7 linked regions of the Homo sapiens genome follow. The protein of the gene in region 1 purifies or fractionates together with the protein of each later gene. This does not show direct contact. Each region holds a gene or a part of one and is shown on either strand. Other genes may lie near its edges. The genes, in order: NKAP, NEURL4, AQR, LCN1, TOPORS, RBM25 and CSNK2A2.

Region 1 (3,888 bases):
TTATGAAACAATTAAGCTAAAATACTGACTCATTATATTTTTCCTTATCAAAACTCTTGACCATAGTTGACTCCTATTCTTTTGGATGTTATCCTATCCTCAAGCTCATATCAGCTCAGATTGAAATAAAGTATTTACATGGGGATAAGAGTAGACTTCTTAAGACTTTATATTTCAAATAACTATTTTTAAGTAACTTATTAAGAATTTAGGCTGGACGCAGTGGCTCATGCCTGTAATCCCAGCACTTTGGGAGGCCAAGGCGGGCGGATCACCTGGGGTTGGGAGTTCGAGACCAGCCTGACCAACATGGAGAAACCCCATCTCTACTAAAAATACAAAATTAGCCAGGCATGGTGGCACATGCCTGTAATCCCAGCTACTCAGGAGGCTGAGGCAGGAGAACTGCTTGAACTTAGGAGGTGGAGGTTGTGGTGAGCCGAGATCACCCCATTGTACTCCAGCCTGGGCAACAAGAGCGAGATTCCATCTCAAAAAAAACAATTTAAAATATCTAATGTTCACATTTTCAATTCAACAAATCTGTGGGTTAGTTTGCTTTTTGGTTTGTTTGTTGGTTTTAGAGTGGAGGTAGGGACTTAAATCAAAACCCATTATTTCCAGGGTAGATCATATATTATAGTACACAAGTCAGTTTTCAAATTCCAGATTTGCTTTTCGCAGCAATGCCTTCATTTTGTTAACAAAAGTGGCCTCCTATATGTTCCTATCAAGTCCATTTATAACACATTCAACACAGAGGAGTGATAATTTCCCAAAAGTTCAGCTGGGGTAGAGGTCGGGGTGGGGCAGGCATCACATAGAGCTAATAGTAGCACTGTCTCATGGTGTGAGATTGAAGTTTCTCATCTCACTAACACTTTTTGTTCAAGCCACCTCCTCCAATACAGTAGCATTTTATTCATAATTTGGATTTTTTTTTTTTGAGACAGAGTTTCACTCTTCTTGCCCAGGCTGGAGTGCAATGTCACAATCTCGGCTCACTGCAACCTCCGCCTCCTGGATTCAAGCAATTCTCCTGCCTCAGCCTCCCGAGTAGTTGGGATTACAGGCGCCCACCACCACGCCCGGCTAATTTTTGTATTTTTTGGTAGAGACAGGGTTTCACCATGTTGGCCAGGCTGGTCTCGACTCCTGACCTCAGGTGATCCACCCGCCTTGGCCTCCCAAAGTGCTGGGATTACAGGCGTGAGCCACCGTGCCTGGCCTTTTATTTTTTTCTGAGACACAGTCTTGCTTTGTCGCCCAGGCTGGAGTGCAGTGGCACAATCTCGGCTCACTGCAACCTCCACCTCCTAGGTTCAAGCAATTCTCCTGCCTCTTCCTCTCGAGTAGCTGGGACTACAGGTGTGCGCCACCACTCCTGGCTGATTTTGTATTTTCAGTAGGGACAGGGTTTCACCATGTTGGCCAGGCTGGTCTCGAACTCCTGGCCTCAAGTGATCCACCCGCCTCAGCCTCCCAAAGTGCTGGGATTACAGGCGTGAGCAACCGTGCCCAGCCCATAATTTGGATTTTTAAACCAGAAAGTTACTATGGTCAATCCAAAATAACCCAAAGAACTTGCTAAAGTTATATCAATAAGCAGCTTTTTATTGAAGGACTGAAAGAATTAAATAGAAGGCACAGTAGCACTGTAAAGCTTTCTCAGAACATAATAATCTTTTTCTATGTATGTGTGGAACCCAGACTTTCTTTTTTGTTGTTAAAAATGTCTTCTGGACAATCAGAAAATCTTTATTTGTCATCCTTCCCTTTGGTCTTTCTGTAAACCATTTCTCGAAAACTGGCCAGAATCTTGTTCTCTCTCTTTCGTCTCTCTTCTTGGTTAAAGGATGCAAGGGCTCTCTTCTCATCAGCACTGTAGATCTGGTTCTCTTTTCGCAGTCGCACAGCCTCCATTCGGCGATGCCTGGAGAGAATTTTATTTTTGGCTTAATTTCTCAGTAATTATTTTCATAGTACATCATCATTAATCCTTTCTTACCCAGAGTGGTCTATTTAACAGCTGACAAAAATTGAAATGGGTTAAATTTCCAAAAGATCATTTATTAATATTTTAGCTGCCTGACACGTCCTTTTTTTTTGTTTTGTTTTGAGATGGAGTCTTGCTCTGTTGCCTAGGTTGGAATGCAGTGGCACGATCTCGGCTCACTGCAACTTCCACCTCCCTGGCTCAAGCAATTCCCCCATCTCAGCCTCCTGAGTAGCTGAGATAACAGGTCTGGCTAATTTTTGCATTTTTAGTAGAGATGGGGTTTCACCATGTTGGCTAGGCTGATCTCGAACTCCTGACCTCAAGTAATCCGCCTGTCTCAGCCTCCCAAAGTGCTGAGATTACAGGCGTGAGCCACCGTGCCCGGCCCTGATATGTCTTTGATTCATTTCCACTATTCAAATAATGATCTCTGATTTCCTGTCAACATAGTAAATGTTATCCTTTTTTCTTTTTTTTTTTTTTTTAATTTTTTTTTTTTTTTTTTTTGAGACGGAGTCTCGCTCTGTCGCCCAGGCCGGACTGCGGACTGCAGTGGCGCAATCTCGGCTCACTGCAAGCTCCGCTTCCCGGGTTCACGCCATTCTCCTGCCTCAGCCTCCCCAGTAGCTGGGACTACAGGCGCCCGCCACCGCGCCCGGCTAATTTTTTGTATTTTTAGTAGAGACGGGGTTTCACCTTGTTAGCCAGGATGGTCTCGATCTCCTGACCTCATGATCCACCCACCTCGGCCTCCCAAAGTGCTGGGATTACAGGCGTGAGCCACCGCGCCTGGCCTATCCTTTTTTCTTTTCTCCTTTTTGTGAGTCTTAAAGTCTGGCTCTGTCACCAAGGCTGGAGTGCAGTGGCACAATCTTGGCTCACTGCGACCTCTGCCTCCTGGGCTCAAGTGATTCCCCTGCCTCAGCCTCCCGAGTAGCCGGGAGTACAGGTGTGTGCCACCACGCCCGACTAATTTTTGTATTTTTAGTAGAGATGGGGTTTCGCCATGTTGGCCATGCTGGTTTCGAACTCCTGACCTCAGGTGATCCACCTGCCTTGGCCTCCCAAAGTGCTGGGATTACAGGTGTGAGCCACCATGCCTGGCCGCTATCATTAATTTCAAATACTAAGGGTATACGTCTAATTTGTTTCCAGTAAAACAATCAGAAATGGGCAAATTATTAAACTTCCTAGGTGACATATCCATTTGCCTTTGTGGAATTGGAAGTAGGATAGATAAAACATTTAACTAGTCATTAATCAGATGGAACTTCCTTCAAGGTTCTACTTTACCATAAAACCAAAAGAACCAAGTCTAGGCTGGGCATGGTGGCTCACGCCTGTAATCTCAGCACTTTTGGAGGCTGAGGCAGGCAGGTCACCTGAGGTCAGGAGTTTAAGACCAGCCTGGCCAACGTGGTGAAACCTCGTCTCTGCTAAAAATACAAAAATTAGCTGGGTGTGGTGGTGGGCACCCGTAATCCCAGCTACTTGGGAGGCTGAGGCAGGAGAATCATTTGAACCCAGGAGGTGGAGGTTGCAGTGAGCTGAGATTGCGCCACTGTACTCCAGCCTGGGAGACAAGAGTGAAACTAGGTCTCAAAAAAAAAAAAAAAAAAAAAAGAACCAAGTCTAAATCTGTAATTGAACAGCAGTTTTTATCAGTGGATTTAACTTCCAAGTCTCCCTCTGTCACCCAGGCTGGAGTGCAGTGGCATAATCTCGGCTTATTGCAACCTCCGCCTCCCAGGTTCAACCGATTCTCCTGCCTCAGCCTCCTATTTCATGTACTGAATAGTTCTTTCTTTCCCCATTGATCTGACATGCTATCTCTTTCATACACTGAAGTTCCATACGTGTATGGTTATCTTTGGGCTCTGAATTTTATT
Region 2 (4,598 bases), on another chromosome or scaffold:
TTGTCATGACCAATCGCCCCCTTCGGGACAATGAGATGTTTGAGGTGTGCAAAGTCCTGTGGTCTGGTTGGCGCCTTATCCCTGGGAGCTAAAGATGGGGATTGACCCTTGGTGCTAGGAGGGTGGGCCCTGGGGAAGAACCAAGGGCTGAAGGTCCCTTTCTGCATTTACATTCCCTGCTTCTCCCTTCTGTCCCTCAATGCCAGATCCGTATCGACAAGCTTGTTGATAAGTGGTCAGGCTCCATTGAGATTGGGGTCACCACCCACAACCCCAACAGTTTGGAGTACCCAGCCACCATGACCAACCTCCAGTCAGGTACCAGCCCCGGGCAGGGGCGGGGGTGCAGGCCTGGTGTTGCTGAGGGGAAGGAAGCCCCGTACCCGAACCCAAGTGTCCACTATCACCCAGGCACCATCATGATGAGCGGCTGTGGAATCCTGACCAATGGCAAGGGCACCCGCCGGGAGTACTGCGAATTCAGTCTGGATGAGTTGCAGGTGAGGGTGGGGCACAGATCCCTGGGCCGCTTTCAGCAGAGCCACAGGTACTCTGTGTCCCTGCCAGGGCACCAAGCAGGGTCTCCTATGTGACCTAGAGGCAGTCCCTGTATCTTCCACCTAAAGGTTCCTTCCTAGAAGCCTGAGTTGCCCAAGAGTTCAGCACTCAGATTTTGGAGTCAGATGGTTGAATTCCTCTTACTGTTTTCCCATTTGTAGTAGCGAACCGGGGCAAGAAGCTTATCCTCTTTGATTGCTCCCCCACCTCCTGCAATCTCTAAAATGAGCCTACGAGTAGTACTTATTCCATAGGCTGAGACTTGTAGAAGCTAATGTCTGTGAGGTGGTTTAACTCAGTGCCTGACTCACGTGGAGCATTGACGAAATGTGGAAATTGTCATGTCTGGAAAACAAGGACCCAGGACCTGTCCTCCAGGGTGGTCTGAGACTCTCACGAATACCTTCTGGAGTTGTTCCTGTGTGGAGTGGGGTGCTGAGCAGGCCTCAGGACTCCTCTAAACTGTTTGTCTTCTTTGATTAGGAGGGTGACCACATTGGCCTCACAAGGAAGTCCAACTCTGCCCTACACTTCTTCATTAATGGTATCGATCAGGGTAAGGGCCGCCCAGAGAGAGCCTCTGGGCCGGGGCTTTCGGTGGGGCTGGGACTGGGGGCTGTACCTCATCCTCCTGCTTCTCTTTGGTGCTTGGCCTCCCTGTGTTTGACTTTCTCCCCTCATTCTCCCTGTCCACTCCCACACCCCCGTACCTTCCTGCCACAGGAGTGGCAACCCCCTTGACGCCCCCAGTGGTGTATGGTGTGGTGGACTTGTACGGGATGGCAGTGAAGGTGACCATCGTCCACAATAACAACCACAGTGACCGTCTCCGCCGAAACAACGCCATCCTGCGGGCGCTGTCCCCCGAGGGTGCTCTCCGCCGTGCTGCCCCTGCCGCCCAGGCAGAACCTGAGCGCCTGCTCTTCCACCCCAACTGTGGGCAGAAGGCAGCCATCACCCACGAGGGACGCACTGCCCTGAGGCCCCAGTATGGCCCATGGGGTGGGGAGAAGCCTGAAGAAGGGATTCTAATGGGGGGGGGGGGGCGGGGCAAGGAAGTGGAAGGCAGAGGGAGCCTGGCGGGGGCAGCTTCCTGGAGGTTGAGCTTTAGTTCTTTGGCTTGGGGCAGTGAGTGTTGGCAGGCATTGCTGGGCTAAGCCTTGGCACATTGAGAGCGTGTGTTGGGGATCTGACTCTCCACTTGCTGTGCCCTCAGTGCCACCGATGACTTCAATCACGGCGTGGTGCTGAGCAGCAGAGCCCTGCGGGATGGAGAGGTGTTCCAGGTGCGCATCGACAAGATGGTGGACAAATGGGCTGGCTCCATTGAAATTGGTGTCACCACCCACAACCCTGCCTACCTCCAGTTGCCCTCCACCATGACCAACTTGCGCTCTGGTGAGCTCCCAGGAAGGGCAGGGACAGGATAGGGTTTTGGGGGGAAGCTATCCCCAAAGCCCTGGCACTTGTTCTGCAGCTCCTTTTTCACTTGTCACTCTTGTGACCACTCATTCAGTGGCTAGAGAGTGTCCCGTGGGCAGGGCTGTGGCTGTCTTGGAAGCTGCAGAGTTTTCTTGTCCTGCTCAGGGAAGAAATCTAGTCATCAAAGAAAAGGCAAGGTGGACTGTGGGCTCGGGAGTCCTGTGGGCGCTGCTGTGGCAAGGAGAGGAGCCCTGCATTTCCCCTCATGTCCCCTCCTGCTCCTTGTCCTCCCAGGGACCTGGATGATGACTGGGAATGGGGTGATGCACAATGGGACGACCATCCTGGATGAATACGGGCACAATCTGGACCGCCTCAAGGTGGGAAAGTGGGTGCGCCGCCTGGCGGCCGCAGCGGGCATCACAAACACCGCGGGGCTGATGCAGGACCAGCCCCGGCAGGAACTCTGCCTGACTCCTCACTCCAGCACCCCCTTCTTCCAAGGCAGGGGACACGGTGGGCGTGGTACGGCGGGAGGACGGGACTCTCCACTTCTTTGTCAATGGGATGACTCAGGGCCCTGCTGCCTGGAACGTGCCCCCGGGCGTCTATGCTGTCGTCGATCTCTATGGCCAGGCGGCCCAGGCCACCATTGTGGACGACGTGGGTGAGGGCCGGGCTGGGCTGGGGCTGGGGGTTAGGGTGGCCTTGGGAGGTCTGAGAGACACCTAGAGACCTGATGGGTGATGTCCACTTTTACAGAGGTGGCTCCAGTTCCTGAACCACTCCCTGAGGGGAACAACCAGGTGTCTCCAAGCTCTCCGTCCTCAGGGGCCGGGGGCTCTGACCTGCGCTTCCATCAGCTGCACGGCAGTAACGCAGTCATCACTAACGGGGGCCGCACCGCCCTCCGCCACAACTGTCGCAGCGAGTTTAATGACGCCATCGTCATCTCCAACCGGTCAGTCTCTCAACTTTCATGTCCCCACCTTCCTCCTGCCCAGCCTCAGCCATGCAAGTAGAGCCTCTCTGATCGCCAGTCTCCTGGCAGGGCCCTGCGGGATGGAGAGCTGTTTGAAATTGTCATTCAGAAGATGGTGGACCGCTGGTCAGGCTCCATTGAGGCTGGTGAGGGCCGTCTGTGTGTGTTGGGGGCTGTTGGATGTCTGTGCCTTGGGGATCGGCCTTGACTTACCCCTGCCTCCTCCCAGGAGTGACTGCTATTCGGCCTGAAGACCTGGAATTCCCCAACACCATGACAGACATTGACTATGACACATGGATGCTGAGGTTGGGCTTCCTGCTTTGGGGACCAGCTTGGGGCTGAGTGGAGCTGGCTGGGATCAGGGAAGCAAGGTTTGGGCCTATGGTGGCTGTGGGTAGTGACAGACCTAGGGGATCTACCTGTCCCCTCCCCTTGAATTCTGGGAAGTCCTGCCCAGGCCCACAGGGGCTCAGTCCTCCTTCATCTTAGGCAGTTCTTGCTTTTTCCTAAGGGGATCCCAGGGACAGAGGAGATAGGATTGGGCCTTACACCCAGATCAAGACACCAGCCCAAGACATTGGAGGGTTCTGACAGACAGGGAGTGGGCAGGGGCCAATGTGAAGTTGAAGTTGGCAGGCTGACTCACCCCTTCTGCCATCCCCCCAGTGGTACAGCCATCATGCAAGACGGTAACACGATGCGCAACAATTATGGGTGTGACCTGGATGCGCTGGGCACAGGTGCACGCATTGGCATGATGCGAACTGCCAAGGGCGACCTGCACTACTTCATCAACGGCCAGGACCAAGGCGCTGCCTGCTCGGGCCTGCCTCCGGGTAAAGGTGACTATGTGGCTTTCAGCCTGCCACCCTCAGCCCAGACCACCTGGCTGTCAGGCTTCTGACCTTCCCTCTCCTCCCCAGAGGTGTATGCGGTAGTCGATCTCTATGGCCAGTGTGTCCAAGTGTCCATCACCAATGCCACCGGCCCCATGGACAACAGCCTGGCGACCAGCAACACTGCCACCGAGAAGTCCTTCCCACTGCACTCCCCAGGTGCGGCAGCAGGGCGGGGGCTGGACGGGCTCTGCTTGCCTGCTGTGCACCTGAGGAGTAGGGTTTCCAGGTTAGAGAGGTTCTGCAAAGACGGTTGGCTGGGGTAGCTGCCGGCTCCAGGGAAGGGACAGCCCACGGTGGCAAGCAGCCAGTGAGGGGGAGGTTACACCTGGTACTTAGAGCCTGGACACTTCCCTGCCACCAAGGGGCCAGGACACCATAAGCTGAGCATGCCAGGTTTGGAAATGGGCCTTGCTGTGGTGAAAAGAGGTATCAGGGCCGGGCGCAGTAGCTCACGCCTGTAATCCCAGCACTTTGGGAGTTCAAGGCAGGTGGATCTCTCGAGCACAAGAGTTTGAGACCAGCCTGGGAAACATGGCGAAACCCCGTCTGTACCAAAAATACAAAATGTAGGCAGGTGTGGTGGCATGCACCTGTGGTCCCAGCTACTTGAGAGGCTGAGGTGGGAGGATAGCTGGATCCCAGGAAGTCGAGGCTGCAGTGAGCCACGACTGTGCCCCTGCACTCCAGCCTGAGTGACAGAGCGAGACTCTGCCTCAACAAAATACAATAAAGAG
Region 3 (4,598 bases), on another chromosome or scaffold:
TTTGTGGGACGTACGGTAATTAAAAAGCATACATCATGCTTACGAAGACCTGGTAAGATATAAAGACATTTTCATTTATTAGAATTTCATTGTTTTCAGTCTTTTGTAGGCAAATTCTTATTTGCCTCTCTACCTCTTATCTTTGGTAGAGAGATACCGTTGAGTGACCAATGATTATTATCGCATTGTAACACAATTATGGGCTTTTCTATAATCTTTAATACTCAATATTTCATAGCATTAATTGAAATGAAAACTTCTTTATATTAAAATTAGAAACATTCATGCCATGAATATATTACTGAATAAGCCCTCCAAGTCATGCTACAGCTCCAAAATTGGATGTTCGTCATCATTCTTATTTTTAACAATCTTAATAAGTAACCAAAAATATGGCTGGCATATAATCCATCTATAGCATATTTAGCAGGTTTTTAATATCAGTTTAAACTATCTATCAGTGTCATTCCAAAGACAGCCTAATTGTATTTCACTAAAACAGGTCAACTCAAGAATAATTAATCAAGGCAAAAAAGTATTGTTTACAGGTATGATCTTGAGAAAGATGGCTGAATATATACAGTTTCAGTTGGCAAATCGTGAACATTTTTATAAGTGAATGTCAAGAAAAAGGAGACTTGTGCCAGAGTCCACAGCTTCTTGGTCACTAGACCCAATAAAGAACTCAAATGGCTTCCCAGCTCTATTAAAAGTAGAGAAACTGGAAGACAAGGATTATAAAATTAGACCTCACAGCATGTAATGCTACACCACTTAATCTTCATTCCATTTCTGATGTTTTTGTTAGCCATTACATGACATAAATGTAAATGTAAACAGTCTGCTTGCTCACAACCTTGTTAACAACAAACACAATGAAATCAAATCAACAATGTGGGCATATGGCTAATAGTACTGAAAATATTTTGGTTTGTTTTAATTGGGGGACTGGTTAGAGTATGGGTAAAGGTAGAAATAATAACTCTATTCATAATACTGACTTAATTATTTCCCAATAAATTCTATGCAAAGCAGCAAGAGAAGTAATGAGAATGAATGGGAATCATCCTACTCTCTGAGTTGTACTACCTGTGTGATGTCTGATCTGCACAGCTCATTAAAACTTCTAAGTCTTACAGCCAAAGAAGTGGTCCTGAGAAGTCATTTATCCTCTCCCAAGATAGGAGTTACTTTTTGGCATCACTGAGGGATGACCTCTTGTTCCTTCCTAAAACAAACCACTTTACTCTGGGACATCTTAGATCCACATTTTTTAAAATCCTATATGTCTCTCTCCTTGCAACCATTTGTATCCACCCTATCCTAGCTGTGCTTTCTGGAGCAAATCTGGCATTTCCATTTCATGAATTCTGTTTCCTTAACTTTAAATGAGAATATTGAAGAAGATAAGGGCTTGAGGTTCACACCTTTTCAAAGGGACAAAAGGAATGTTTTATGGTATTTAGTTTAATAATCTTTAAAATTTACTTTTATAAAACAATATTCAGCTGGGCACGGTGGCTCACGCCTGTAATCCCAGCACTTTAGGAAGCTGAGGCAGGTGGATCACAAGACCAGCCTGGCCAAGATGGTGAAACCCCGTCTCTACTAAAAATACAAAAAATTAGCTGGGCGTGGTGGCGGGTGCCTGTAATCCCAGCTACTCGGGAGGCTGAGGCAGAGAATTGTTTGAACCCAGGAGGTGGAGGTTGCAGTGAGCCGAGATTGTGCCACTGCCCTCCAGACTGGGCGACAGAGTGAGACTCCGTCTAAAAAAAAAAAAAATGTATTATTGTTTACAGAATCTCTCCTTTTTACTCCATTTTCTATTTGGCTACCCTATCTGTGATCAATATAGGGGCTGGTTTTTGGCCCAGGCCTCCCATAAAACACTTTTCTCTCCATCATACCCCAGATTATCACTCATCCCACAATACCCTATTGTGCCCTATCTTGCCCATCAAAATGTACCCTGTCCAGTTCTCATTCTACCAGAGGCTGATGTTTAAAAGAAAAAAAGACTGTCTCATGTCCTTCTGAAAGCAGTCAGTAATGGGGGAAGTGGCCTGTTTTTAAACATCCTTTTGTTTTCCTTAACACCAAAATGCAGACCTCTCATCTATAAATTCCTATAGAGTCCTTTAAAATAAACAAAATTCCAACTATCTACTACTTCTGGGGGTACCCAGTAAGTTATCTCAGTTTATTACCCACAGTGTTTAATATCTCCTTAAGCTTCAAGGAATAATAAATATGAGACCTTCTCCAGCAACTTAATGGCTTTCTCGAGGCTCAGCAATAATAAAGGTGCACATTAGTCTAGATGAGTAATATACCAGGATGGAACTCTTTTGAAGGATACAAGGGTTATAAAACAATCTGTCATAAACTATACCCGCTACAGTAGGCATTTGTTAAACATTTGGCTAGCTTTGTTGCTGGATTCCTTCAGAATTCTTTGATATAGTTCCCATGATTATAAACAGCTACACTGGTAGTAATAATTTCTGAAAACAGATCCATTAAGGGACATCCTTTCCTTCTGGCATGCCAAGAAGGTAAAAGGAGGTAAAACCTACTGACTACTGTTTCTCAAAACAGGGCTTTAAGTAAGACCTCTCACAGGACAGCTGGGAGAAAAATATAAAACTGCCTATTAGAAATCAGTTCATATGTCACTTCTGGCAGAGGTCTTATTGATGTTTTAACTCTATTGGACTTAGTAATTTTGAACATATCTGCCTCCAAAACAAATTAATTTTGACATGGAACTCTAATCCTTAAAATCTTGCCTAGCAAAAATAGGAGGAATAACTCCTTTAATTTCTTTGCAATTATTATATATCCTTGACTACATTTGACTTCACTGACTCTTTATCCTTTCTGCCTTAGGCGCAAATAAACTATTATTTATTTCTGAATTGTTTCACTATAGCCCTGCCCACCCCCACATATTCTTTTTAAGCTTGCCTAATTTTTATTTTCCACAAAGTGTATGTATTTCTATTTTTTTCACCTTGGCTACTTTTATCTTTTGAAAAATACCAATTTTCCTTACTGCTCTGCATGTTTGTATGTTATATGTGGGCTTTCTCCCTGCTCTTTGGTGAACACTAATATTTTTATTCTTTTATATTGATGCCAGAAATCCATAAATATTATTTTGCTAAATTTAAGACTTAAAATGCTCTCCTCTAGGCTTTGCAAACTTCAGTTTTCAAAACGTTGATATGTATGCAATTTTATACTTTTTATTAAAGTATTAAGATACCTAAATATTCTTGTATGATCCCTGGTATTTTTAAAACTAATAATTAGAAAAAAAGTTGCTATTCTTTAAATCAAATTTCAAGGATAACGCTTAATAAAAGCTTTAAAGGATAACATTTAGTAAAAGTACTTTGTTAATGCTCTAAGTGAAAGTTCATAACAAGGCAAAAGGTAATGTCACTTTTTGAAATACAAACTTACCTTCCCATTCATCTTTGATGTGATCTCTGACATTGAGATTTATGGTAACATCTGCACGAACTCGGGTTGGCCAGTTTTCACCTATGTTGGGTTTGGCCACTTCAACGACAGTGAAAGCCACAATGGGCTGGGCCATTCGCGCCCAACCACCAAACACTACACCGCCATATTCAGATTGCCTGAAACCAAAGAAATGGATGATTACTCAAACAAAAAATAATTTATCCCCAACTTTTAGACAAGTTAAAACTAGTAAGTAGGAATACTGTTCAGCTAGTATTTAAGTCCTAATATTAGTAACTCTTATTTCTTAACTTAAAAAAAAGAAAACCTTTAACTCTCAAAGTATGCAAAGTATATAAGATAGCATGAAACAGGGATATGATAGCATGAAACAGGCAAACATGGTCCAGAAAAGAAAGAGAAGTAGAGGAATATCTCCTCTCCAACCTAAGAAAAAAGCTAACCCTATGTACATAAGAGCATTCTGGGGCTGAGCCATTTTATCAAAGAAATAAATAATCCAGCACACTTAGTTTTATTTCAGCTTTATTGACGTATACTTGACAAATAAAAATTGTATATAGTTAAGGAATACAATGTGATGTTTTAAACTATGTATACACTGTGATATCATTACCAACACAGTTAGCATTTTTTGTGTGTGTGGTAAGAATACTTAAGATCTATCCTGTCAAGTTTCAAGTACATAAAACATTAATTATAGTCACTATACTTTACATTAGATCTCCAAACTTATGTATCTTGTAACTGAAAGTTTAGACCCTTTGACCAACATGACCCCATTTTCCCCACCTACAACCTGATAACTGCCCTTCTACTGCTTCTATGAATTTGCCTTTTTTAGATTCCATATGTAAAGTGAGATAATCAGTTTTTGTCTATCTGTATCTGGCTTAATACATTTAGCATAATGTACTCCTGGTTTATCCATGTTGTCAAAAAAAGGATTTCCTTCTTTTTAAAAGGTGAATCATATCCCATTGTGTGTTTTTATATATGTACACACACACCACATTTTCACATTTTCTTTATCCATTCAGCCCTTAAGTTGTTTCCACATCTTGGTTATTGTGAATAATGCTGCAATGAACACAAGAGTGCAG
Region 4 (3,699 bases), on another chromosome or scaffold:
CAGGCCTGAGCCACCATGCCTGGCCAGAATCGAGCACTGAGGCCTGGTTAGGGGCCGGCCCCTTCCTGAGCAGCTGATTGGTCCACACGGCAGCCCTGCGCTAATCAGACGGCCCCACTGGGGGGCCGCTCCCCACCAGCCCTCATTGCTCCAAAGCCAGGTACCAGACAACCAGGGACAGCCCCTAAGCCCTGGAGCAGAGAAATGACCCATGTTAGCTGGCCACAGGCAGCCGGGTCACCCGCTACACTTTCTGCTCCCTACCCTGAGCTCTGCAGGCTGTTGTCCTGTCCCAGGCTCAAGCCACCCCGTGTGGCCCTGCCTGGCAACTGCCCTCTCCTGCGGAGCAGCAAGTCACTAAGAGTCTGCCTCTCCTCGCTCCCAGCGTCACTGTGCGATGTTGCGCCATCGAAAGAAACTTTAAATCCTACAGACCGCCAGGGTCAGGAAAGGCGCCTGTGCCAGGTGGGACCTCTGGTGGCTGCCCCCAAGCTGGGAACTTGCTGTCCCAAACCTACCCAGGCACAGAGAGGGACAGCGTGGAGCCAGGCTCTGGGGGCAGTGCTGGTGTGGCTCCCCGGAGGACAGGACTGGCTTCCCCGGTGAGCTCAAGCCCGAGCCACACCCTGCCTTGAGCTGCTGTCCCCTCCCCCCACGTCCAGCCTCACGGACTCAGCATCAGTGCTGAGGGCACTGGTGGCTCTGCCCAGTCCCCTCTGGGTGGCAGCTGCGCTTGGTCCCAGGCCTTCCGGTCTTACTTGTGCAGGACCGAGGAGTGGAGCCCTGCCCCCACCCCCGCAACCCCTACAGCCTGAGCTCAGCGGGCGGCTGACCTGCAGGAAGCACCCCGGGACCTTCAGGCCCAGCCTCCAGCACACACCCCCCTGCTAGGCCCCTCCCACTGTTGGCCTGTGGCACCCACCAGGGAGAACTGGGTCCAGGCTGGTTCCCTGTCCTTCCTCCTGCTTCCCACCCAGTCCCTGCACCCAAAAGAGCACCCAGCCAGCACCTCTCACCCCGAGGGACCCCACAGACAGGCGGAGTCACTGGGAACTGCTGAAGCTCTTTATGGAGAACCAGGAGAGGGGGCGCAGGGCAGGGGGAAGGCGGGGGGTGGTAGGAAGGGGTGCAGCCAGCCGCGTTCTGCAGGGGTGGGGAGCTTTTTCCATGTCCCTGTGAATGACGGAGGTGCTGGATGGTGCCGTCCTTGGGCTGCTGAGGAGCCAAGGTGTCCCCTGCCCTGGAAAGGGGGGGAGGGTGAGTGAGGCCAGGACAGCAAGGGTGGGAGGGGGATGCAATGTGGGGGCGCATGTGGGCTCTTGGGTGCTGCAGTGTGGGGGCCCATGTGAGCTCTCAGGGGCATGGTGTGGGGGGCACACGCTGCACTCTTGGGGGCTGTGATGTGGAGGGCACATGCAGGCTCTCGGGGGCTATGGTGTGGGGGGCACAGCAGGCTCTCAGGGGTGATGGTGTGGGGGGCACATGTGGGCTCTCAGGGGCATGGTGTGGGGGGCACATGTGGGCTCTCGGGGGCTATGGTGTGTGGGCACATGTGGGCTCTCGGGGGCTATGGTGGGGGTACACACTGGGCTCTTGAGGGTTACGGTGGAAGGCACATGCGGGCTCTCGGGGGCGATGGTTGCGGGGGCACGTGCTGGATCTCAGAGGCAATGGTGTGGGGGACGTGCACCGGGCTCTAGGGGGCTATGGTGTGGTGGGCACATGCGAGCTCTTGGGGGCGATGGTGTGGGGGGCACACACGGACTCTTGGGGGCTGCAGGTGGGGGCTCCAGCCTCTAGATTGGAGCGGATGGAGCAGGGACCACCCCCGCAGGCTGCTGACAGAGCTCCCTGCTGAGTGAAGTGGCATCAGGGTGACTGCAGGCCAAGGGGAGGGTGCGGGAAGGACAGCGATGCTGTCCAGGATTCTGGCTCTGCCCACACCTGGGCAGGTGACCTTGGGCGAGTCTCCAAACTCTGGTCCCCTTGTGCAGCCAGCAAGGGGCCCATCTGACACAGCGAGCACAGGCACGCCTGCCACTTTGCTGAATCTTTGAGCAACTTATCGGGTAAGTGGAGTCACAGGCATGGCCGAGGGTGAGGGGTGCTGAGGAGGAACCCGAATCTCCTGCCTGCTCCTGCCCATGTGACTGGGGGGTAGACACCGTCTCCACCAGCAGCCAGCAAAGGCGGGCTCAGCGCTGTGGGCTTCCCAGCTGCCCAGGAGTCACACCCAGGGCAAGAACGGAGTCTGACGCCCGAGCGTGGGCAGCTCAGGAGCAGAGCTCCCACCTGCCTGACCTACGTGGGGCATCTCCCACCCAGGTAGGAGTGGGATGGGTGGGAGAGACCCCATGGCCTCTGGAAGCACCACTGAGCCCCAGAACTGGATTTTCTCAAATGTCCTCTAAAGCTGTTCACTCACCCTAATCGCTCCCTGGAGAGCAGGTTTCTGCAGGAAAAGGAAGCACAGGCGTTAGGAGACCCCAGGAATGCAGTCAGGACCGGGGCCCCTCATCAGCCACCAGCTCCACCACCCCAGGAAGGACAAAGCCAGAATTAGACGCAGCACAGTTATGCGCCCGTGCAATGCAGCTCTGCTGATGTCCCCACGCGGGGACATGGGGGGCTCTGCAGGGCCATGCCTCCTACCGCTCTGCCTGGGGATGAGGATGCTCTCCGTGCTGAGTCCGCGGGCTCCTGCGGCTTTCTCAAAGTCCTCCAAGGCTTCCAGGTTGTTCTTGGGGTCTCTGCCTGTGGGTGCCAGGACGAGATGTGGGTGCTCGAGGCAGCACTGGGCCGACGGCACCCCATCCCAGTCTGGAGGCCTGAGCTGGGCTGGGGAAGGGGACCTCGCCCACCGTGGGGGGAATTGAACCCAGAGGCCCTCAGGCTGGCAAAGTGGGACCAGGGTGCCGTGCACGGCTGAGAAGGCTCCTGTGGCAGCAGAACCGGGAGAACGGGAAGGGCTCTCCATCCATCCCTGAGCATCTCCCGGAGTGAGGATGGACGGCACGACAGGCCCACCCTGGAGGAAGCGCCTCTCCCCTTGGGGGCACCAGGATCCCAATCCTCTGTCATTCGCACACCCCTGGCTCCAGGGAGAACTCAGGAGCCTTCATGGGCCTCGTCCTCTGACAGGGACAGCACTGATGAGTCACCATCTGTGGGAGGCACCGCGTCCGGAATTCAACCCCGGGAGCTGGAACGTTCTTTCCATGCAGACTTCTGCTCACATCCCTGTTCCTCTCTCCTGCTGGACACCCCACAGGAACGCGCTCAAGGATGACACTGCAGGGAGCTGCTCCGGGGGAGGGCCTGGCCCACTCTGGGACATGTGTGACCTTTGAACCCCTGTGCCTGCAGCCGTGGCTCCTTCCTGCCTCTGCTGCAGATACCGAGGCCGGGGCATCCCAAATCCTGAACTCCAGGGGTGGGAATTGAGGCCTTTATCAGGAAAACTCATCCTAAGAAAACTGCAGTGGGTTCCTGGGTCCCAGTGGCTTCTCCCATGGGGAAGAGGGTGCAGGAGGCCGAGGGAGGAGGGAGGGCAGGTGGAGGCATGGGTTGCAGGGTGAGGGTGCGGGACCCACCCACGAGCTTCACCCCTCGGACCGGCTTCCCGTGCAGCTCGCCCTCACAGTAAAAGATGTAGTGGTCCTTCACGTGCGACCTGATGATGTATGCCACGTGCTTGCC
Region 5 (4,598 bases), on another chromosome or scaffold:
CTACGAGACCTTGATCTGCTTGTGCTTTCACTACTTAGAGACAGAGTTTGGCTTCTTCTGGACCAACTGCTATCTCTAGTTCTTGATCTCTTTTTGTCTCTTCTCCCTCTAGGTCTGCTACTTTCCCTGCTTCTGGATCGTTTACTTTTCATTCTTTTCTTCCCATGATGCTTTCTATGATTCTTCTGATCATGCCCACTTCTACTCTGAGAACGTGAATCTGAACTTCTTGATCTTCCCCTCTTTCTGTGTCTATGGTTATATGGAGAATATACTCTGTCTCCTCTTACAGATGAGTTCAGGTTTCTGGGAGATGACAATGATGTAGATCGTTTCTCTTCCTTCTTTGATTTGATTCTTGTACTAGAATCACAATGACCTTTATTTATTTGTTCATCCTTTCCAAGGACAGAGTGTGGAGATGAGCATCTACTAACATCGCTATCACCAGAACTGTAAGATTGCTCCTGTTCTTGTGTCTTCACTGTCTCCATTTTCTCATAAGAACCTAAGTCCTCAGAATCAGAGGACAGTTCAACAAGTTCTGGGGTCCTCTCAGCTAGTGGTTTAACAAACCCAACAATGACACAATTATCTGAAGAATCATCACTGTCATTATTTAGGTCGTCATTGGTTTGTACTCCTTGTATCTGAGACGTGGCTCCTCCTGTGACAAGTTCTTCATCTGAACTGTCAGAAGTATTTAAAAGAGAAGACATAGTAACGTGTACCTGCTCTGAGCTTGAGTAAGATGGTCCTGGAGTTTCATCATCCCATGGTGCCTGACTAACAGTGGCTACATTAATATCCAGCTCTTGGGTCTCAGCCTCATCTGGAGATATTGTTATGACTGAAGAATCAGAATGGCTGCCTTCTTCGTATGAAGGAGCAGGGCAATCATAATTGGCATGCTGGTCAAAGGCTGCCATGTTAAAAGGAGATCGGGCAAAACTGATAAATTCATGTATAAAATGCTCAGTTCGATTAAGTAAAAATGGTCTTAAATCAGACACAAATGCCTGACTCTCCAAGTCATAGCGAGTAACATTACTCATGATAATATGCTGGACAATATTCACTAAAGATCCATGAGCTCCAAAAAGAACTGTAAGTTCACGTTTTAACCAGGGGACTAATCTGTGAAGGCAAGCTGGATTTCTACGGAAAAATTCAGCTGAAATATCCCTGTAGCGGCCACCATCTTCAATATTTCTAACTCGAGCACCAGCACGATAAAGAGTTCGTCTAAAATTAATAATATCTTGTTCTTGAATTTTCCGCAAAGATCTTTCATCTGCCGTAGTTGGCCTCCTTACTGCAATCTGTCTCATAAACTGAGGAATTTCAACATCTCTAGGTCTTGTTGAAATGCCTAACCCTTCAAACAGTACTCCACTATCCGGTGGAGTTGTTGTTCTTCTGTTCACAGGACCACTAGGTGAATACACAGAAGCATTTCGTTCCCTTGTCAGAGTTGTACGGTAGCGAAATCGTCGATCAGGGGTGACAAAAGAACCATTATACGAAGGCCTTAGGACATACTCCTTGAAGTCATCTTCTGCCCTCACAGAATGGAAAATAGAATCAAAGGGCTGTTTACATAGTGGGCATTCAGCTTTGTTTTTTGACCACTCCTGTACACAGCGAAAACAGAACTTATGTAAGCAGCGATCTAAGTAAGACACATTATCAAATCTATCCAAGCATATAGGACACTTAGAATCAGGAGATGCATCAGCTGGTACTGTCTGTTGCAATTTGCTAGTGCCAGCTTTAGGTGAAAAGTTGTCCATTTTAAATTCCTTAGCAGCTGATGCCATTATCTGTAAAAGGGAAAGAAATATATCAGTAACCTGATAATAGAGGAATGACTAAATAGTCTCAACAAAAATGCAAATAAAGACCTTGAAACTTATTTTGGTGAAAATACTTAAGTGACCCATTACTTTTGTTTTATTTTATAAAGGGGCACTGTAGCATAGTAATATAGTGCTTAAAGCATAAGCTCTGAAGTCAGATTTCCTAAGACTGAATCCTGGTTCCACACTACCAGCGTGACTATGTGCCAGTTAGTATCTCTGTGCTTTAATTTCATCTGCAGGTCAGTGATAACAGAATCTGCCTTACAGGGTTTGTGAAGATGTAAAAAGCCCTTAGAAAAGGCACCTGCTACATAGTAAAGCTCTCAAATATTATGTAACATTCTATTATTCTTTTTAAAAATAATTTGAGAAATATCTGACATATAAAAAAAAAAAGTACCAAATACCCATGTATCCACCACTTATGTTATGCCCCTTATCTTCCCCTCCTATCACTCTCTAGAAAACAAAAAACAAAAACACCACACTCCTCAGTTGATGTTATTTCTATGCATGGCTTTATACCTTTCATATACATATGCCACTAACAATACAGACTACTGATTTATCTGTGATATTTTGTATGTACTTTTCTAAAACAACTTTGGTGACATAACTTACATACCAGAAAGTTCACCTGTTTAAACCAATCCTATGATTTTTAGTGAAAGATTCTTTTTTCAACCTTAGAAAGCTAATTTTAAAAAGGGAGAGGAAACTTTTAGTGAAGATTAAATAATAAATGAAAAAGCAGCCAAGAGGCAGTGCCTGGCTCACAGTAGGTGCTGAGTAAATGTCAGCTGTTATTATTACTACACTATTATATTCAGTTAATCACTCATTCCATTCAGCATTCCTAATAAGCCTTCCTTTAGCTTTTTTCTTTAATCCAAAAGTCAGGCCACAGAATATCTTGAAATCATGTTTTTGGTCCCCTTCCCTATTATCCTTTCCCATAAGGATGACTAGAATATTAAAGATTAGTTTGTTTTATCAGTTTACATTGGCTCAAAACTTTGCTAGAGCTTGAAATCTAGTATGCGTTTTGACTTTATCTCATAAACTCCAAAGCTGCATTTTATACTAATCATTTTGAGTATATTGACTATTGGGGAGTCAGGCGCGGTGGCTCATGCCTGTAATCCAGCACTTTGGGAGGCCAAGGCAGGCAGATCACCTGAGGTCAGGAGTTCAAGACCAGCCTGGCCAACGTTGTGAAACCTTGTCTCTACTAAGAATACAAAAATTAGCCGGGCATGGTGGCAGGCACCTGTAATCCCAGCTACTTGGGAGGCTGAGACAGGAGAATCGCTTGAACCCAGGAGGCAGAGGTTGCAGTGAGCTGAGACTGCACCATTGCAGTGGGTGACAAGAGTGAAACTCTGTCTCAAAACAAATAAACAAACAACAACAAAAAACTACTAGGCCCTTGGTTTCCCAGGGCCTAATATTCATCTTCCTCCACCTCCTTTATCACAGGAGGTTCCATCACTAGTCAACTGGGGTCAAGTTAATCAAATAACAGAATTGTAATTTTCTAAATAGACTCATTGGCCTTAACAAACTATAAGAAAAACCAATAAACAAAACCCACAACAAAAACTCATGACTGAAATACAAGTATTCCACCATAGCTTTCATATTAAACCTGCTCACTTTAGGGCATCTTGGCTTTCTCAGAACCATAACTTAATAGAGAATCAATTAATGCTAAATAAGCGTTTCTTCAGGGGTCCAGGTATGTCTAGTCTTCTATTTACTGGACTGAAAATGCAAAAACATCATCACTGTCCTGGAAGGTCTGGAAAAGCAGGATTATAAATACATAATACTGCTTTTTTGTTCATAAACAGTCTAAAACCCTAATACTGCACAACCTTCTCAGCATTTCCCTCTACTTTTAACATTTTTTAATCTGCCTACTCAAGAAATTTAAAGAAACACACACATAAAAATAAAAACCTTTCAGTTCAGAGACTGTGTGTGTGGTAGAGGGAAGGAACAGAGAAAAGTTGGGAGGGAATCAAAGAGGTTATCAAAAGATCTGGACTGAAGACCAGGCTTCACCTAGAACTAGCTCTAGTTAATGTGAAGAAAACCACATTACTCTAGACTTTAGTTTTCTCCTCTATATAATGAAGGGATTACTGGACTTGGAAAAAAGACCCGTGAATTCCAAGTTAATACATTTTATCTTCACTTAGTTCTCTGAAATAGAATTTTAGTGTTTTCTGAACACTTCCAGTTCACATAAAAATTACAGCTGAAAATGAATTTATTAAAGGGAATTATTAGGTAGTAAACTTGAAGTTCAAATAAAATAAAATCTCAACAAAGTATGATTTTTTTAAAAAAATGAAACCTTACCCTTCCCTTCTCTAGTTTTATAAGCCTGTTAACCACTTTGACAGTAAAAGGTGAATGAATGACTGGTAATGTCCTCCATAACAGGTTAAAAAATAATAATAAATTAGAATTCATTCTTGTATTTCTACACAGGAATCATTAGCTGAAAAGAATAATCTTAGCCGGGCATGATGGGCACACCTGTAGTCCCAGCTACTCAGGAGGCTGAGGCAGGAGGATTAACTGAGCCTGGGAGGTCCAGGCTGCAGTGAGCCATAATTGCACCACCTCACTCCAGCCTGGGTGACAGAATGAGACCCTGTTTCAAAACAAACAAACAAACAAACAAACAGTCTTCATCAGAAACATCAAAGAGGCGGGGCACGGTGG
Region 6 (4,598 bases), on another chromosome or scaffold:
GCCTGGCCAACATGGTGAAACCCCATCTCTACTAAAAATACATAAATCAGCCAAGTGTGGTAGCACATGTCTGTAATCCCAGCTACTCGGGAGGCTGAGGCAAGAGAATCACTTGAACCCAGGGTGCGGAGTTTGCACTGAGCTGAGATCGTGCCACTACACTCCAGCCTGGGTGACAGAGTCTGTCTAAAAAAATAAAAAATAAAAATAAAGTCTTATTCCACCTTTATAATGCAGTAAATTGGCTGGGCGTGGTGGCTCACGCTCATAATCCCAGCACTTTGGGAGGCCGAGGTGGGTGGATCACAAGGTCAAGAGATTGAGACCATCCTGGCCAGCATGGTGAAACCCCATCTCTACTAAAAATACAAAAATTAGGAGAGGGGGTGGCTGCAGTAATGAGAGGCTGGTGCTGCAGCTCTTTTCCTGCAGTCCAGCCAAGGAAGCGTGCGTCCCTGGCGCTTCCTTCTCTTTGGACAGAGAGCTTGGGATGTGGTAATGCCAGCCAGACTTCTCAGAGCCATGGTCAGATCTACCGTACACTGGCAAAAGCACATCAGTGCCAAAGAATTGGTCATCTAATGTTAAAACCACTAAAGGAATTTGAAAATACAACATGCGGCACACTGACAATACGTCAAAACTTGGATTTGTTCCTTCCTGATAATACAGCTGGTAGTCTGAATAAGTCTCAGATCCTGTAAATGAACCAAAAAAAAAAAAAAAAAATCAAATACAAGCATTGTCTCTCCATTAAATGCTGCTCACTGCCAAGACGAAAAGGCACACCTTCCAACCATGAAATCCTTTGGTACTCACAAGAGAGTGACCCACAAACCAAATCTATTGGGGTCTAAATGGTTTATAAAAATATTAAAGAGGCATTTCTCATCTGTATCAATGGAAACATTTGTTCCAAAACAAGGCTTTCCACATATCAAGAGACCACTAAAGCATCCAGGACCAAGCAGCCATCTAGGACCAACCTTCCAGTTCTGTCTGTGAACGAGGTAAAGTTGGGGTGGTCGTAGCTCATGTGCTTAGTGATCACTGCTCACGCTAAACCAGTGTGCGCTGCACCCCAGCCTTACCGCCAACTTAAGAAACTGGCAGTCAACTCAGACTGCTCCATCAAGATCTTTGAAGCCTAATAAATATCCAAAGAGATTCAAAATCTTAATTTTTAAGAATTAATGATACATATAAAAACAAAATACAGGCCGGGCGCGGTGGCTCACACCTGTAATCCCAGCACTTTGGGAGGCCGAAGCGGGTGGATCACGAGGTCAGGACATCGAGACCACGGTGAAACCCCGTCTCTACTAAAAATACAAAAAAAAAAAAAATTAGCTGGGTGCGGTGGCAGGCGCCTGTAGTCCCAGCTACTAGGGAGGCTGAGGCAGGAGAATGGCGTGAACCTGGGAGGCGGAGCTTGCAGTGAGCCAAGATCGCGCCACTGCACTCCAGCCTGGGCAACAGAGCGAGACTCTGTTTCAAAAAAAAAAAAAAAAATACAGGCAATAAAACATGAAAAAAATACAAAAATTATCCAGGCGTGGTGGCACATGCCTGTAGTCCCAGCTCTTGGGAGGCTAAGGCAGGAGAATTGCTTGAACCCGGGAGGTGGAGGCTGCAGTGACCCGAGATCAAGCCACTGCACTCCAGCCTGGTGACAGAGCAAGACTGCCTCAAAAATAATAAAATAATAATAATGCAGTAAATTATTATAATACGGACATATTTATTTAACCAACATTAACAGTTGGCTCCACTTTCAGCTCTCACAAATAATGTTGAACATTCCTGGAGATAATAGACATATAACTGTATGCATCTGTACAGGTAATTCTCTAATACAGGTTAGAACTATATGTATCTGATTAGCTGGGTGTGATGGCAGGTGCCTGTAGTCCCAGCTACTCAGGAGGCTGAGGCAGGAGAATCGCTTGAACCTGGGAGGCGGAGGTTGCAGTGAGCCGAGACGGTGCCATTGCACGTCAGCCTGGGCGACAGAGCAAGAATCCACATCAAAAAAAAAAAAAAAAAAAATTATATGTATCCAAACTTTACCTCCAAAATCATCCCTGAAAACTAGCATATAAATGTATATTCCCACCACCAGAATATGGGTATGCCCTTTCCTCATATCCTCATCATTGGTAGAATAGATCAGTGTCAAAATTCTCACAATTTCATAAGTAAAATATACTCTTATTTCAATTTACATTTCCCTCATGACTAATGAGGTTGAGTATGCGTTTACCTGTTTACTAGACATTTCTTTAAAACAGAAAAGCATGACCTACATGCTCACAGCTCTACTTCCTCAGAATTCCTTTGACTTAAATTGGGATAATACCATATTCAATAAAACTAAACTTCAATTTCAGAAAACACAGTATACTTAAAATATTTAGAAAACTTTATAGGTAAAGGAATCCCTAGGATGCATTTTTTTTTTTTTTTTTTTGAGATGGAGTCTTGCTCTGTCACCCAGGAGTGCAGAGGCACCATCTCAGCTCACTGAAACCTCCGCCTGTCGGGTTCAAGCGATTCTCCTGCCTCAGCCTCCCAAGTAGCTAGGATTACAGGTGCACACCACAAGGCACGCACGACCAAGCTCAGCTAATTTTTGTATTTTTAGTAGAGACGGGGTTTCACCATGTATGGCCAGGCTGGTCTCAAACTCCTGGCCTCAAGTGATCCGTCGGCCTCGGCCTCCCAAAGTGCTGGGATTACAGGTATAAGCCACTGCGCCCAGCCCTTAGGAGGATTTAATATACTTGGCAAATGAGGTATTAGAAATGTTTTAAACAGTAGGTAGGTTATCAGTACATATTAACAATGAAAAACACAAGATTGCAAGACTGTAAATGTGTTGAGTTTTAAAATAAACTTTCTGTAAAACTTTTTGACCAAAACCAAAAACTGGGGGTGGTATCTCTTTTTAAAACAGAAAGGGCTACTGTCCTACTTACAGAAGCTCTTCTATTATCATTATAATAGCCTATCTCAGTGCTTTCTTAGGATAGTTGGTTTTCATACCTGTTGAATAAACTGATTAATGAATAAATCAGTAAACAAACTCTGAGGACTTCAATAAACAAATTTATTATGCTATCTCATGCCGCATACTATATTCTAGCAATGGCCCAGTGCCTAGCCTCACAATGGTTACAAGACTGGGCCATGAACTCATTTTTAAAACCACTTTTCCCCCAATAATATTAGATATAAATAATGCTTAAAAACTAAAACTCTCGGTCAGGGGCGGTGGCTCACACCTGTAATCCCAGCACTTTGGGAGGCCAAGGCGGGCAGATCACTGGAGGTCAGGAGTTCGAGACCAGCCTGGCCAAAATGGTGAAACCCCTGTCTCCACTAAAAATATAAACACTGGGCTGGGTGAGGTGGCTCATGCCTGTAATCCCAGCACTTTGGGAGGCCAAGGCAGGCAGATCACAAGGTCAGGAGATCAAGACCATCCTGGCCAACACGGCGAAACCCCGTATCTAATACAAAAAGTTATCCAGGCATGGTAGTGTGCGCCTGTAGTCCCAGCTACTCAGGAGGCTGAGGCAGGGGAATTGCTTGAACCTGGGTGGCAGGGGTTGCAGTGAGCCAAGACTGCGCCACTGCACTCCACCTTGGCGACAGAGCAAGACTCAGTTTCAAAAAAAAAAAAAATTAGCTGGGCACAGTGGCTCACCCCTGTAATCCCAGCACTTTGGGAGGCCGAGGCAGACCGATCACTTGAGGTCAGGAGTTGGAGACCAGCCCGGCCAACATGGTGAAACCCCGTCTCTACTAAAATACAAAAACTAGCTGGGTGTGGTGGCGGGTGCCTGTAATCCCAGCTACTCAAGAGGCAAAGGCAGGAGATCACTTGAACTCGGGAGGCCGAGGTTGCAGTGAGCCGAGATCGCGCCACTGCACTCTAGCCTGGGTGACACAGTGAGACTCTGTCTCAAAAGAAAACAAACAAACAAACAAACAAAATTAGCCAGGTGTGGTGGTGCGCACCTGTAATCCCAGCTACTCTGGAAGGTGAGGCAGGAGAATTGCTTGAACCTGGGAGGCAGATGTTGCAGTGAGCCGAGGTCGCGCCACTGCACTCCAACCTGAACGACAGAGTAAGACTCCGTCTAAAAAAAAAAAAAAAGTAAAACTCTATATTCTTGGTATTTAAGTTATATTTTATGGTTTTTAAATGTGTAATTCATTCTGCAGAGTTAACCAGATATATTTAATTTTCGTTTATGCCAATATACCCATTCCATTCACTTCAAATTTTTCCATAACATATTCCCCTTTATTTGGAGCTGCCAAAACTTGCTTGTTGATAGGCTGGACTTCAAAGGTGAAGGCAAAAATACCAGTTAACAGCTAATTTTTATGGATATTCCTTTAAGATAACTGGCCTCTCCTGGGCGCGGTGGCTCACATCTGTAATCCCAGCACTTTGGGAGGCTGAGGCGGGCGGATCACAAGGTCAGGAGTTCGAGGCCAGACTGGCCAACATGGTGAAAGCCCGTCTCTATTAAAAATACAAAAATTAGCCAGGAATGGTGGTAGGCGCCCGTAGTCCCAGCTACTCG
Region 7 (4,598 bases), on another chromosome or scaffold:
CCTTTCCACTTCTGAAACGGGGTAAGGTAAAGCACTCTCTCTCTCTCTCTTACTTACTGTCCCAGGATATCGTTGAAGTGTGGATCTAGGTCTATGTGATACTTCTTCAGATACCCATACAGTTCTTCTGTACCCAGAACCTTGGCAATGCGAACAAGCTGAAACACAAAACAAACTGACCAAATCACTGAGCACAGAACACACCATGAGCCCGTGAGGACACTGCACCAAGGAATCAGAAGACTTCCACACCACTAAACCTCTAGGAACGAGATACAAACCCAGGTCCAGGGCAGGCAGACAGACCCAAGGACAAGAAGTTCACATGAATGCAAATTTCCAAACGGCCTTTAAAATAATACAACTTACGATAATAATCTTCTAGAGGTGGACCAGTACAGGGCATCACAATCTAATGACTAAAATCTAGTTTTATTAGACAAGGAGGTGCCTGACTTCTTCACAGATTCACTTTGGAAGTTTGGCATAGATGGCATTATCTGCCTCTACTTCTGCGGACCTGGTAAACACAAAATTCTGTGCGATCTTTATCTTGAAGAAAAGCTCATATGCAGACACTGAGTGATACTTAGTGGCTCAAGGATAGTATTCTTATCTAAGGATGCTATTTTTTTGGCATTCACCCCCAAATAAATAAGAACCAGAAAGCATTTGCTCACCTGGTCATAGTTGTCCTGTCCATGGAAGAATGGTTCCCTTCGAAAGATCATGCTTGCTAACATACAGCCCAAACTCCACATGTCCAAGCTATAATCATACATCTGAGGCAATAAGGACAACGCATTAGCCAAGGGTATTAGAAATCCATTTTTCTGATATAAATTTCTTTTTTAGACGAGATTGGGCGTGTTCAGGGTGGTATGGCCATAGATAATTTATTTAAAAAAAATTTTTTTTAACTTCCTGGCTCCTAGAAATGATCTGAATTTCTAGTCTTCATTTAACCTTTGCAGATATTTTAGATTTAAAAACTTCTCTGTCCCCCCAAAAAACTAGCTGAGAAAAAACTAAAATCAGCATTTTAGGGTGAAATAATGGCTGGGTTTTGAGTGTATTCAAACTGACTAGATCAACAGCAAACCAGAAAAGCCCTAAGCAAGTATAAATAACCCAGAATAGCTCTGCTAACAAGTTTACCTGATAGTCCACGAGGAGCTCTGGTCCCTTGAAGTACCTTGAGGCTACACGAACATTGTACTCCTGAGCAGGATGATAGAATTCTGCCAGACCCCAATCTATCAGTCGCAGCTACAAATAGGACAGAAAAAAACATGTGAAAGGAGTGTTTCTAGACGCCTATGCCTTAGAACAAGGCCACATCACATTAGGTAACAATCATTTGGCCACACAAAAAATGTGAGCAGGTGCACTGGCTTAAAAATTACATTTTCAGCAATCGTGCAAGAGGTCATTTTTAGAGCAGAACACTTGAAATGCTTTTTGAAAAAATTTTAAATTATCCTGGTTCATCCCTCTCTCTAGATCAACAGAGCTCAACCTTTTTTTCTGCCCACATTCAGAAACTGTAGGCAGTTACACTTGGTAACACATTCTCCCATCATTCATAGCTTTTCGTTATAAGCTCCAGGCGTCAGTGAAAGGGCTGGGGACACACATCCCACTCCAGGACTGAAGCATTGCTCTAATGATTTATTCGTCTAATACTAGATGATCCATTTACTCACTGATTAGGGCCAACAGAGTTGGATATCAAAAATAGGAGGGACCCAAGTGTTCTTTTAAGGCCAGGCAGATTGGTCTGCGGGTCATCAAGAAATGAAGCAGAAACCACCAGCTGTAATTTCTTTCTGAGGCCCTCCAGAAAACTATGACCAAAATAAACAAGTGACTATAGTTAGTTACTATAGTTAAACCGTCTACTTTCCTTGTGTACTACACTATACAAAGTAGAAATCAACAATGGAGATGGGAGAAATCACAGTAACGAAAGTTTGCCAAAAAACCCACCACGGGTCTACAGAAACCATCATGGCACTGGACAGCTTTTTGGTCTGCTCTAAGCCTTTTAATCAAGCTTGTTGCTGCCTGGCTGTAATGGTACCTTTTTCTGTTGGTGATCTATCATGACATTGTGAGGTTTCACATCCCTGTGCATGATTCCCTTGCTGTGGCAGTAATCCAGAGCCTATTAGGTAAGAAAGCACAGATAATAGTAAGCAACCCCTCTACCATCCCCCAACGCAAGCATAGTCTTATTGTTTGTGACACCTTGACTTGAATACAGTCCCCCAACGGGCAGCTTGCTGCCTGTAATGAAAGAGAAAAAAAGCGTGCTTCAGAAGGCACCCCTTGCTCTCTCTGCACACTACAGCTGGTAGAAAGGGGGTATGAAGGGAATGGCAAGGGCTATGAGGAAGATTTCTTTTTTTTTTTTTTGAGATGGAGTCTTGCTCTGTCGCCCAGGCTGGAGTGCAGTGGTGCAATCTCGGCTCACTGCAAGCTCTGCCTCCCGGGTTCACGCCCTTCTCCTGCCTCAGCCTCCCGAGTAGCTAGGACTACAAGTGCCTGCCACTACGCCCAGCTAATTTTCTGTATTTTTAGTAGAGACAGGGTTTCACCGTGTTAGCCAGGATGGTTTCAATCTCCTGACCTCGTGATCCGCCAGCCTCGGCCTCCCAAGGTACTGGGATTACAGGTGTGAGCCACTGTGCCCAGCCGAGGAAGATTTCTTTAAAAGAGGGGGTGATGAGGCCAGGCACAGTGACTCATGCCTGTAATCCTAGCACTTTGGGAGGCCGAGGCAGGTGGATCACTTGAGGTCAGGAGTTCGAGACTAGCCTGGGCAACACGGCTATACTAAAAATACAAAAGTTAGCTGGGCGTGGTGGTGCGTGCCTGTAATCCCAGCCACTCGACTGGGCTGAGGCTGGAGAACTGCTTGAACCTGGGAGGTGGAGGCTGCAGTGAGCTGAGATGGTGCCACTGCACTCCAGCCTGGGCAAGAAAGGCGGGCAGTGGGGAGGGGGGTGTGTGTGTGGGATGATAAACCAGACTTTGGAACCTCACTGGAGTCACCTCTCATAATGGTTCAAAGGACAGACCAGCATCTATGTGGACATGAAGAATGACATTCAAATACATCTTTCAGTATGGCTTATTTTGTACATAAGGGTCCCACGTGGGTTTTCTAGATGACCAAGTATTAGTATTTTCCTTAATATAATCCCTGAGCCAGCTAGCCTTTAAGACTTATCATTATAAGGCCAGGCATGGTGCTCATGCCTGTAATCCCAGAACTTTCGGAGGCAGGCAGATCACTTCAGGTCAGGAGTTCAAGACCAGCCTGGCCAACATGGCGAAACTCCACCTCTACTAAAAATACAAAAAATTAGCCAGGCAAGGTGGTGGGCACCTCTAGTCCCAGCTACTTGTGGGGCTAAGGCACGAGAATTGCCTGAACCTGAGAGGCGGAGGTTGCAGTGAGCCGAGATGGCACCATTGCACTTCAGCCTGGGCAACAAAGCGGGTCTCAAAAAAAAAACAATTATCATTACATATTATTCCAAGGGAGAAAATTGCTTTGTTTAAGATGATTGATATGCAGATAAGATTTTATGTATATAATGGTTTTTCACAAATTTAAAAAGCTGTGCAACCATTACCACAATCCAGTTTTAGAACATCTCCATCACTCCTAAAATTTTTCTTGAGCTTGTCTGTAGTCAATCCCCTTTCCTAACTTCTCCCAACCCCTCCGTGCCCTGCCCACAACCACTGACCTGCTATTTGCTGGTATAGATTTGCCTTTTCTGTACATTCATAATATGAAATCATACATGTATAGTGCTTTGTCTACCTTCTTTCCTTCAGTATACTGTTTCTGAGATTCATCCAAGTTGTTTTTCCTTGCTGAGTAGTATTCCACTACTAGCTGATGGACATTTGGGTTGTTTCCACTCATGCTTTCATTTCCCTTGGGTAGATTCCTAGGGGTGGAAGTGCTGGGTTGTATGCTAAATTTGTGTTTAAACTTTTAAGAAACTGCCTAATTATCTTCCAAAGTGGCTGCGTCACTTTTACTCCCACCAGCAACCTGAGGGTTCAAGTTTCTCCACATTCTCATCAACACCTGTCATTGTTCAACTTTTTGATTATAGCTTTGCTGGTGGGTGTAAAGTGGTATCTCCATGTGGTTTTGATTTTTATTTCCATAATGAGTGATGAAGTGGAACTTCTTTTTATGTGTCTACCGGCCATTCTAAATCTTCTTTGGAGAAATGCTGATTCAAATCTTTCAATCATTTATTAGATTGTTAAGCTCCATTTTTTTAATGTAAAAATTTGCTTCTAAATCTCCCTTGCCTAACATAATAACTATCTTCATAAACTTCAAATTCAGGACCTTTGGCTAATCTTAACAAGCACCTGAATCCTACACAAGGTCAATGAAATACTCTTCAAGTAGAATCCCTGTCCTCTACCTACCACTAGAGCCCCCCTCCAGTTTTAACAACCAAAAATGGTTCCAGATTTTGCCCAATGTCCCCTGGGGGACAAGCTTGACCTGGATAAGAAGCAATAAACTAGACTCTTGAGGACACTTGAATGGACTTCTT

What was found.
Region 2: the proteins of NKAP (region 1) and NEURL4 purify together in Homo sapiens (co-immunoprecipitation; one large-scale study listed by IntAct). This does not show direct contact.
Region 3: the proteins of NKAP (region 1) and AQR purify together in Homo sapiens (affinity purification with mass spectrometry; one large-scale study listed by BioGRID and IntAct). This does not show direct contact.
Region 4: the proteins of NKAP (region 1) and LCN1 purify together in Homo sapiens (affinity purification with mass spectrometry; one large-scale study listed by BioGRID and IntAct). This does not show direct contact.
Region 5: the proteins of NKAP (region 1) and TOPORS purify together in Homo sapiens (affinity purification with mass spectrometry; one large-scale study listed by BioGRID and IntAct). This does not show direct contact.
Region 6: the proteins of NKAP (region 1) and RBM25 purify together in Homo sapiens (affinity purification with mass spectrometry; one large-scale study listed by BioGRID and IntAct). This does not show direct contact.
Region 7: the proteins of NKAP (region 1) and CSNK2A2 purify together in Homo sapiens (affinity purification with mass spectrometry; 7 studies listed by BioGRID and IntAct, with this or other methods). This does not show direct contact.

The regions. Positions count from the first base shown.
Region 1 is NC_000023.11:119,923,462-119,927,349, forward strand, and holds part of NKAP (NF-kappa-B-activating protein), read right to left. Parts: intron 1,934-3,888; coding exon 1,759-1,933; 3' UTR 1-1,758. UniProt on the Homo sapiens protein: Acts as a transcriptional repressor. Plays a role as a transcriptional corepressor of the Notch-mediated signaling required for T-cell development. Also involved in the TNF and IL-1 induced NF-kappa-B activation.
Region 2 is NC_000017.11:7,322,157-7,326,754, reverse strand, and holds part of NEURL4 (neuralized-like protein 4), read left to right. Parts: coding exon 1-44; intron 45-206; coding exon 207-318; intron 319-411; coding exon 412-500; intron 501-1,041; coding exon 1,042-1,114; intron 1,115-1,281; coding exon 1,282-1,546; intron 1,547-1,774; coding exon 1,775-1,956; intron 1,957-2,274; coding exon 2,275-2,360; intron 2,361-2,484; coding exon 2,485-2,647; intron 2,648-2,742; coding exon 2,743-2,941; intron 2,942-3,031; coding exon 3,032-3,108; intron 3,109-3,191; coding exon 3,192-3,270; intron 3,271-3,631; coding exon 3,632-3,807; intron 3,808-3,888; coding exon 3,889-4,020; intron 4,021-4,598. UniProt on the Homo sapiens protein: Promotes CCP110 ubiquitination and proteasome-dependent degradation. By counteracting accumulation of CP110, maintains normal centriolar homeostasis and preventing formation of ectopic microtubular organizing centers.
Region 3 is NC_000015.10:34,906,664-34,911,261, forward strand, and holds part of AQR (RNA helicase aquarius), read right to left. Parts: intron 3,651-4,598; coding exon 3,472-3,650; intron 50-3,471; coding exon 1-49.
Region 4 is NC_000009.12:135,523,885-135,527,583, reverse strand, and holds the end of LCN1 (lipocalin-1 isoform 1 precursor), read right to left. Parts: coding exon 3,594-3,699; exon of another isoform or gene 3,082-3,593; coding exon of another isoform or gene 2,755-3,081; coding exon 2,653-2,754; coding exon of another isoform or gene 2,477-2,652; exon of another isoform or gene 2,453-2,476; coding exon 2,427-2,452; coding exon of another isoform or gene 2,426-2,426; intron 1,241-2,425; coding exon of another isoform or gene 1,067-1,240; 3' UTR 1,044-1,066; downstream 1-1,043. UniProt on the Homo sapiens protein: Could play a role in taste reception. Could be necessary for the concentration and delivery of sapid molecules in the gustatory system.
Region 5 is NC_000009.12:32,542,504-32,547,101, forward strand, and holds part of TOPORS (E3 ubiquitin-protein ligase Topors), read right to left. Parts: intron 1,824-4,598; coding exon 1-1,823. UniProt on the Homo sapiens protein: Functions as an E3 ubiquitin-protein ligase and as an E3 SUMO1-protein ligase. Probable tumor suppressor involved in cell growth, cell proliferation and apoptosis that regulates p53/TP53 stability through ubiquitin-dependent degradation.
Region 6 is NC_000014.9:73,064,519-73,069,116, reverse strand, and holds part of RBM25 (RNA-binding protein 25), read right to left. Parts: intron 4,146-4,598; exon of another isoform or gene 4,024-4,145; intron 1-4,023. UniProt on the Homo sapiens protein: RNA-binding protein that acts as a regulator of alternative pre-mRNA splicing. Involved in apoptotic cell death through the regulation of the apoptotic factor BCL2L1 isoform expression.
Region 7 is NC_000016.10:58,166,527-58,171,124, forward strand, and holds part of CSNK2A2 (casein kinase II subunit alpha'), read right to left. Parts: exon of another isoform or gene 3,944-4,598; coding exon of another isoform or gene 3,839-3,943; intron 2,168-3,838; coding exon 2,084-2,167; intron 1,270-2,083; coding exon 1,159-1,269; intron 783-1,158; coding exon 681-782; intron 159-680; coding exon 58-158; intron 1-57.